Linked DNA regions of Homo sapiens. The protein of the gene in region 1 interacts with the protein of each later gene in a biochemical or structural test. Each region holds a gene or a part of one and is shown on either strand. Other genes may lie near its edges.

What was found. The genes of interacting proteins can lie anywhere in the genome.
Region 2: the proteins of CCDC181 (region 1) and TRPV4 interact in a test that uses a peptide from one of them, tested with the Homo sapiens proteins (one large-scale study listed by BioGRID).

The regions. Positions count from the first base shown.
Region 1 is NC_000001.11:169,395,404-169,401,140, reverse strand, and holds part of CCDC181 (coiled-coil domain-containing protein 181), read left to right. Parts: intron 1-3,749; coding exon 3,750-3,904; intron 3,905-4,565; exon of another isoform or gene 4,566-5,247; intron 5,248-5,737. UniProt on the Homo sapiens protein: Microtubule-binding protein that localizes to the microtubular manchette of elongating spermatids.
Region 2 is NC_000012.12:109,788,399-109,792,139, reverse strand, and holds part of TRPV4 (transient receptor potential cation channel subfamily V member 4), read left to right. Parts: intron 1-3,397; coding exon of another isoform or gene 3,398-3,423; coding exon 3,424-3,740; intron 3,741-3,741. UniProt on the Homo sapiens protein: Non-selective calcium permeant cation channel involved in osmotic sensitivity and mechanosensitivity. Activation by exposure to hypotonicity within the physiological range exhibits an outward rectification.

The DNA of each region.
Region 1 (5,737 bases):
TTGTTTACCTACTTAAGCCTCAGCAATGGCAGACATCTCTCCCCTAGCCTTGCTGTGGCATTGCAGTTTGATCTCAGACTGCTGTGTTAGCAGTGAGTGAGGCTCTGTGGGAGTGGGACCCTCTGAGCCAGGTGCGGGATATAATCTTCTGATGTGCCGTTTGCTAAGACCGTTGGAAAAGTGTAGTATTGGGGTGGGAGTGTCCCAGTTTTCCAGGTACCATCTGTCATAGCTTCCCTTGGCTAGGAAAGGGAATTCCCCGACCCCTTGTGCTTCCTGGGTGAGGCGATGCCCCACTGTGCTCTGTGGGCTGCACCCACTGTCTGACAAGCCCCAGTGAGATGAACCCGGTACCTCAGTTGGAAATGCAGAAATCACCCGTCTTCTGCATCACTCACGCTGGGAGCTATAGACTGGAGCTGTTCCTATTTGGCCATCTTGGATCCTCCTATCAGTTTATTTTTTTAAATTTCCATTTCTTTACTGAGATTCTCTTTTTATTCATTATATTCACCTGTTCATTTCTTACATATTAGACCTTTTTTATATTCATCTTTTCATTTCTTAAATATTAGACCTGTTTGTATCTAAATGCCAATATCTATGTCATCTTAGGATCGATCTGTTGAAGGCCTCTTTCTCTGGATTATGGGTCACATTTTCTTGTTTCTTTAGATATCCAGTGATTTTTTTTAAATTGGTTAATAGACTGTGGATCTTTTCAATATAAAAGTTGTAAGGAAATATAGAATACACTGTTTTCCTTTAAAGGGTATTGAATTTTTTTCTTGTAGGCAGTTAGATTAGTAAGGAATACTCTTGATCCTGTCAGACTTTGTTTTATGCTTTGTTAGGATGGGTTTATTTTGCTTTTGTCCTTAGTCCTAGAGCATGGTCCTTACTCTAGGACATGACCCTTATTTCCAAAGCATGGCCTTTTTAGGGTTGTAAGTGGTTGACCAAGGTAAGCAATGAAGTATTCCCACTATAGTTGGATTGGAACTCCAATGTCTCCAAAACTATGCAACCTTTATTATCTTCTTCATTAACAGCAGCTACTCTCTGTTAGACCTTACAGAGCCTCACTCTACACATGTGCAGCCCAGGCCTTGCCAAGACCCAAGGGAAACCCCCACACAGACTCTTGGAGCATCCCTCCACATGACTGCTTCATTTCTAGTACCCTGCCCTGGAAATTCAGCTGTCTCAGCAGCCCCAGACTCCTATCTGTTTCATGAGCCCAGTGAGACTAGTGACTGCTTGATGCTATGACTCCTCCTTCCTATACCGTTGTCTGGAAAGTGTCACCAAGTACAGAGCCAGGGTGAATATGGGGGTTATATCATGTTTTTTCTTACTCTCAGTTATCAAGCTGCTGCATACATTTTATCTAGCTTTATAGCTAATTAGGGCAGAAGGGTAAATCTGATACCAATTATGATATCATGGATGGATGCAAAAGTCTCCAATTCAGTCATTTATCCTTTTTTATAATCAGATAATTTAATCCATTACTAATTATGTGTATAATTCATATTTTATCTTTAGAATTTTTTATTTTCCTCTAATTTTTTATTTTGGTTCCCTCCACTATTGAGAGTTATTTGCTATGATCTTATGCAGTGACATATTTGCATACCAATGCAGTCTATCATTCTGATGATAGTTCTGCTGTAATTTACCTTGTTTTAAAAATATATTTTCTTGAATTTTTATTATACTAATAAACCTGGAATAATTTAAAAAATAATCATTTAAAGCATGACATAAAACTATCCATTCAATTTTTGAGCAAATTATGTTGGTTCTATCTTCAGTGCATATACAGAGTCCCACTACCCTAATCTAAACCACTATTTTCTTCTGTTGGCTGGGCTGTTACAAAAGCCTAATAACCCAGCCCCCTTCTACCTTGCCTCTCCCTCATTCAGTTTTCCACATAGCAGCCAGAATGATATTTCTAAAATGGTGAATAAACTGTGTCACTTATGCTCAGAAACCCCCAATGGCTTCTCATCTCAAAATGAAATCCAAAGTTCCTACCATGGCCAGCAAGGTTATACATTACCTGATCCCTACTACTTCCCTGACTTCATCTTCCACTCTTCAGCTACTTTGCTACAGCTTCACTTTGACTTCTTTGCTATTTATTGATCATGCCAAACACAATCCCTTCTTAGCTCCTTTGCTCTTATTGTTACCACTGTTTTTCTCCAGATATCCCATAACTTCCTCCCTTTCTATTTAAATACCATCCTTTCTCCTCACTGCTGTGTTTATTACCCTCCTTCCCATATTTTCTTTTGAATCAGACAGATCAGTCAATCAATCAGTCAGTCACTTATTTTTATCCTGTCTGTGCAGAACACTGTCCAATAGAACTTTCTGGGATGATGGAAATTTTCTGTATTTGCACTGTCCATTAGAGTAGCTGCTAGCCATGTGTGTCTGTTAAGCACTTGAAATGTAGCTAGTATGACTGAGAAACTGAAGTTTAAATTTTATTTAAATAGCCACTTATGACTTGTGGTTACTGTATTGTACAGTACAGAATGTGTGAGAGAGGGAACCTTAATTTTATTAATGCAACCCAGTACTTTAGTGCCTGCTATGTAGTAAATACTATGAATATCTGTTGAAAGAACAAAAGAATGGGGATACCCATGTATCCTGTTGCTCCCTGAATCCTTGAATCTTTAAAAATATTTTAACTTTAAAATTGTATTTAATTGACACATAATTTCACATATTTATGGAGTACAGTGTGATGTTTTGATACATGTACACATTGTGTAATTAGCATATTACCTCAAACACTTGTCATTTCTTTATGATGAGAACATTCAAAAATCCTCTCCTCATTATTTTGAAATATACGGTATTGTTAACTGTAGTCACTCTACTGTGTAATAGAACACCAGAACTTATTCCTCCTATCTATTACTTTGTATCTGGACTCTTTTGATCTATAACTCCCGATTGAACATTTTTATGTCATCTCTAGCAATTCCCAGACTTCCAGGTGTTTGGCAATGATTCTTTAGATCCAGGGGTCTTCTCCACAAAGTTCAGTTGTGCATCAAAGATCCTGAATAATCTTCTAAATTAGACTAGAGCATATTTGGCAATGTGGGTTACAAACAAGGGAAAAAATGCAAGATATAGGCAACAGATGAGGGAAATGCAAGATATAAGCTCAATCACAAAGCTTATATTTGGGGGAAGTATTAAATGAATGTATCTTTTCCTTTTGCATTCTAGCCAGGAATCCACATGAGGTGACACTTTTCCCAAGGGTAAAGAGTACCAAATCTGTCTTCTTTCTCTCCTTTATTCCTCCAAATAAGAGCTCTTTGAACTTTTGAAAATTCCCTGAAGATACTATCCATCATGAACTTTGAGGGACCACGAAATAAGCCACTCCTACTAGCTTTTTCTTATGTTAAAATTATCATGGCTGCTATCTTTATAAGAAAATTCTTATGACTGAAAATCCTTATGGCCACCCTTTACAATAGGAACTACAGTTTTGAAAAATGGGCTTAGCCATTTTAAGTAACTGCTGAAAGATATTCTTAAAACTTAAGCGTGATGTATTTGGTTTGGATACTAGGAATGCAGGTAATGAGGCTGGCATTATTATGAAAAATTGAAGAGTAGGAAATATATTCTTGTAGGATCCCATAAGCAGGGCTTCAAAATGTAGTTCTTGTTTATCTAAACTAAGTAAAGCTTGTTTTTCTAATCAGCAGGAAAACAGAGATCCACAACAAGCTTTTCGATTATGGCTTAAAAAAAAGCACGAAGAGCAGATGAAAGAAAGACAGACAGAAGAACTAAGAAAGCAAGAGGAATGTTTATTCTTCCTTAAAGGAACAGAAGGCCGGGAAAGGGCCTTTAAACAGTAAGTTAAAGGCAGGGCATTTCCCCCCTCCTCCTTCCTCATGTTCATTTTAAAAGTTATATCATCAATTAAGATTGGAAAAAAAAAACCCTCAAAATGTTTTCTCTTACAGCACGTACCTATTCAATTTTAAATTCATGCTTTTAAAAATGTATAATTCTTTAACTCTATTATATATATTATATATATGGAGTTATATATATATATGCATACCAATTTTTCTTCAAGATACTTTTCAATACTTAAATTATTTCTTATGGCACCAGTGTGATAGCCTTTGATACCTTATCATTTATTGTTTACTTATTTCTGTGAGAAATGGGTTGAAGATTGGTTACAGCTTCTCCTACATAGCCCTCAGAAAAACTGAATTTACAAATAAATGCAACCAATAAAAGTTGCATTTACCAGTAAAAGAAAGGCAGGTGGACTAAGGAGGAAAATCTGTATAGACCAAAGGAGATTTGGGTACATATTTTGGTAATTTAAGGCAAACCTGATATTTTTTAGTTATTTGGGTAAGACACTGCATTGCCTAATTCTGACAATACAGATGTGGCTTCATATTTTTGCTAGCAAGTGTGGGGAGAGTTGGGGGACCAAATGTGAATATTGAGTCCAATTGTTTGAAGTTCATTTCATTCTTTCGTCTCTTTTGCTCTTTCCTTCTTTTTTCTCTTCCTTCCTTTTTCTTTTCCTGTCACCCAGGCTGGAGTGCAGTGGCATGATCTCAGCTCACTGCAACCTCACCCTCCCAGGTTCAAGTGATTTTCCCACCTCAGCCTCCCAAGTAGCTGGGACCACAGGTGTGCACCACCACACCTGGCTAATTTTTATATTTTTTTTGTAGAGATGGGGTCTCACCATGTTGCTCAGGCTGGTCTCAAACTCCAGACCTCAAGTGATCCGCCCACCTTGGCCTCCCAAAGTGCTGAGATTAGAGGCATGAGCCACCATGCCCAGCCTCCTTTTTGTTTTTCTAACATACCCTTTTATTATAACAGAAACAGTAAATGTGCATTGTAGAAATGGAGCGGTTTCAAGTTACATTTTCATCACCCAGAAATTGTGACTGTTAACACCAGTATGCATACTGTCTAAGTATTTGTCTGTACATGTATTTACAATTTCAAAATACTGAGATCATACTGTATTTCTGCAATCTGCTTTTCATTAATGATATTACCGAATATCCAGCCCATATCCATTTATTCCCCAACTAACCCATAAATGACTTACAGTTTATTTGCTTAAACTAGTAGCCAATTCAGGACCACATATCATCAGATTATGATATTTAGTAAGTTTCTTTTTTTTCTAATACAGTTATTTAGTTGTTTATTCTGAAAAAAAAAAAACAACAAAACCAGGTGTATGTATGTGCATATACACACACACACACACACAAACATACCACATACACACTTACATACCAGGTATATATGTATATGCAGTTATTTTTGCTATTATTTAAACAAGGTTTAAGACTTGAATTTGTTAGAATGTGGACTTTTCCTTTCCTGCTTTTGATGTTTTCATGTTTGGCTTACTTTTCATTTTAAGAACTATTTTGTGGACTTAAAAGCTCTATAATTTACCTATAAGAAGAGTAAGGCAGCATTTCTGCATGATAGTATTCTTAACCTAGCTAAGTAATGTTTTAGAATACAGCTAGTTACAAAGAGTAAGTTATTTGGAATCTACCAAATAGTAAGAAATCCTGTTTCTAAAAAAAGAATAGGATCTACAGCACACATAAAATAGTGTTTATTATTAAAAAACCAATTAAGTTGGCAGTTTCATTGTAAGACAGACAATTTCAAACATTTGACC
Region 2 (3,741 bases), on another chromosome or scaffold:
CACGTAGTTGGGATTACGGGCTCCTGCCACCACGCCCCACTATTTTTTAATTTTTTTTTTTTTGTATTTTTAGTAGAGATGGGGTTTCACCATGTTGGCCATGCTGGTCTTGAACTCCTGACCTCAGGTGATCCACCCTCCTTGGCCTCCCAAAATGGTGGGATTACAGGTGTGAGCCAACGCGCCTGGCCACTGAGTTCTTATTTGTGTGCCAGGCACCAGACTAAGTACGTTTCCATCCTTGCCTCCCAACAAGCCTGTAAGCTAAGTGCCTTTATTATCCCCTATTATAGAAAAGGAAACTGAGGCTTAGGAGGGTTAAATAACTAGCACAAGTTCAAAAGCCAGTGAATGGTGGCCGGGCGCAGTGGCTCACATCTGTAATCCCAGCACTTCAGGAGGCTGAGGCGGGTAGATCACTTGAGGTCAGGAGTTTGAGACCAGCCTGGCCAACATGGCAAAACCCCGTCTCTACCAAAAAATACAAAAATTAGACAGGCATGGTGGCGCGCAACTATAGACCCAGCTACTCGGGAGGCTGAGGCACAAGAATCGCTTGAACCCAGGGGGTGGAGGTTGCAGTAAGCCAAGATGGCACCACTGCACTCCAGCCTGGGCAACACAGCGAGACTCTGTCTCAAAAAAAAAAAAAAAAAAAAAGCTGGTGAATGGCAAAACTGGAGTATTAGCTATTGCTACAAAGGAAGCCACCTAAAGTGGGGCTTAAAATAGCACCCACTTATTATTATTATTTTTTTTGTGGCAAGGTCTCACTCTGTCACCAAGGCTGGAGGGCAGTGGTGCTCTTGGCTCACTGCAATCTCTGCCTCCTGGGTTCAAGCGATTCTCTTGCCTCAGCCTCTCGAATAGCTGGGATTACAGGCGTGTGCCACCACGCATGGCTAAGTTTTATATTTTTGGTAGAGATGGGGTTTCACTATGTTGGCCAGGCTGGTCTCGAACTCCTGACCCCAAGTGATCCACCCACCTTGGCCTCCCAAAGTGCTGGGATTACAGGCGTGAGCCACTGTACCAGGCCAACTTACTATTGCTTATGAGTCAATGGGTCAGCTGGGTGGCTGTGCTGCCCTGGGCCAGGTTTGGCTGATCCCTACAGGCTCTTGTGCCTGTGGTCAGCTGGCAGGCTGGCTGCTGGCTGACTGGTCTAGCTAGTATGGACTTGGTTAGAGGGGGTTTGCTATCTATCTTCCACATGGTCACTCATTTCTGGACAGCTAGCTTGGGCTTGTCCACATGGTGGCCTTAGGGTTCCAAGAACATGAGCAGAAGTGTTCAAGGACACCTCCTGGCATGGCATCACTGCTGCCTTACTCTGTTGGCCAAAGCAAGTCACAAGGCCAGCCTCGATTCAAGGGATGGGGAAATAGACGCCACTTCTTTTTTTCCATTTTTTTTTTTTGGTGGAGGCAGGGTCTTGCTATGTTGCCCAGGCTGGTCTTGAACTCCTGGGCTCAAGCAGTCCTCCTGCCTCAGCCTCCCAAAGTGCAGGATTATAGGCGCGAGCCACTGCACCTGGCCTAGACTCCACTTCTTAGTGGGAGAAGCTGTAAAGCCACATTGAAGGAGGATGGATACATGGAAGGATAAAATTTAATAATTAAACTAGCAGCCCAGGTATTTTCTTAAAGCCCAACATCAGCTCCCTTGATATACCTTCTTCGTGATGTCATGATGCCACTAAGAAGCATTCTGGGACCTCAGTGGCATGGGTCATGGGAGAAGGACCAGGGACCAGGGCTGGAGAAACTGACCAAGTCCTTGGGCTGATCCCCGAGGTGTGGGTAATCTGACATCAATGCCCAGCATCCAAAGGGGAATGGCCAACTCAGGTTAGACCTGGACACATACACATCTGAGCAGGTTCATCTGGGGACGAGCCTGGCACAGGAATCTGACAAGGGTGATATTTTAACCCACGATAGTGGCCAAGTCTCTAGGTAGATTATTGGTGGGAAGTGGAATTGTAGTTTTCACTGGGGAGATAGGGACAGGGTACAGCTTTCCCTTCCCAGGGATCACACTGGACAAACTAGACAGTGTCAAGGGTTCAACAACAGTTTGGGATTCAGGTCAGGGATCTAGCCCTACTGCAGTCCTAGTTATTGAAACTAAGGAGAAACAAGGGTTAGAGTAGCAGCTTAGCAGTCAGCTTGGTTGCAGGTCTTCTCCTTATAGGATGCACTAGATCTCAATTCTGAGGCTGACATGACATAAACAGGACACACATGCTTCTGTTCCCACACTTTGGTGTCCATAGCAGACATCACTAATGGATCACAGAACAGTTTTTCCGGTGAGTCCAGACAAGGTCTCAGAATCCTTCTCAACACAGTGTTTCACCAGGTACTATACAACTGAAGAACATTAGCATATGAGTTGAAATCTGCATACTCTAATCCCTGGTTGCAGGCAGTATGACATTCTGTGCCCCACTGACTGATGGGACTGAGTCTTCTTCATGCTCCCCTCCCTGGCTGGTTTAGGGACAGGTTGTTGCTGCCAAACTGTGTTGAGAAGGAATCTGAAGCTCCACCTGGGCTTAGTAGGAAAGGAGAACCATGATGAGTTTGAGATGTCTAGAGCAGGAGAGGCCCCTTAGAGAACACGGCTTTGGGGACAGTCAGGACTGATGCCTGGTTTCAGCCCCCACTTTTCCTCTCTGGGTTGGGGTGGAGTGGGAAACTGTCAGAGAGAGAGTCTACCCCTGCGAATAGGGGCATTCCAGAGCCCCCAAGACCTCTAAGAATGGTAGGCCGCATTAGGATTTCCCAACACTATTGACATTTGAGACCAGATCATTCTTCGTGGCGGGGACCATCCTGTGCATTGTAGGGTGTCAGGCAGCACCCCTGGCCTCCACCCACCTGATGCCAGTAGCACCCCCACCCCCAGTTGTAACAACCAAATATGTCTCTAGACATTGTCAAATGTCCCCTGGTGGGAAAAACTGAGACCCTCCCTGGACTAGATCCTGAAAACCTTTTCCCTCCCGGTAGCAGGGAACCACCAGGTTGTGTAAGGAGGGGTGAACTGTCCCAGGTTGGAAACAGAGCAGGTCAAAACTCCTACGCTTATCAGTAGTGGGATTGAGCCTGTGAGTAGCCACTGCACTCCAGCCTGGGCAACATAGCAAGACCCCATCTCAGAAAGAAAGAGAGAGAGAGAGAGATAACCTCTTCCTTATCAGCAAGAGTTTATGGAAAGGCTTCAAAGGTTTTGGGATCAGGAGGACCTGGGTCTGGTGTGGCTTGGCTGATGTGTAGGGTGACATGGGTCAGCGTGTGGGCCAGCGTGCTCCGCTCACTAGGCCTCAGCTTTCTCCTCCAGCAAATGAGAATGACACCCTCCACCTCTCTGTGGGTGTGCTCACACTCAGTGAGTGCCACCCCTATCCTCCCACAGCCCTGGTCTCCCTCCTGAACCCGTGTGCCAACATGAAGGTGTGCAATGAGGACCAGACCAACTGCACAGTGCCCACTTACCCCTCGTGCCGTGACAGCGAGACCTTCAGCACCTTCCTCCTGGACCTGTTTAAGCTGACCATCGGCATGGGCGACCTGGAGATGCTGAGCAGCACCAAGTACCCCGTGGTCTTCATCATCCTGCTGGTGACCTACATCATCCTCACCTTTGTGCTGCTCCTCAACATGCTCATTGCCCTCATGGGCGAGACAGTGGGCCAGGTCTCCAAGGAGAGCAAGCACATCTGGAAGCTGCAGG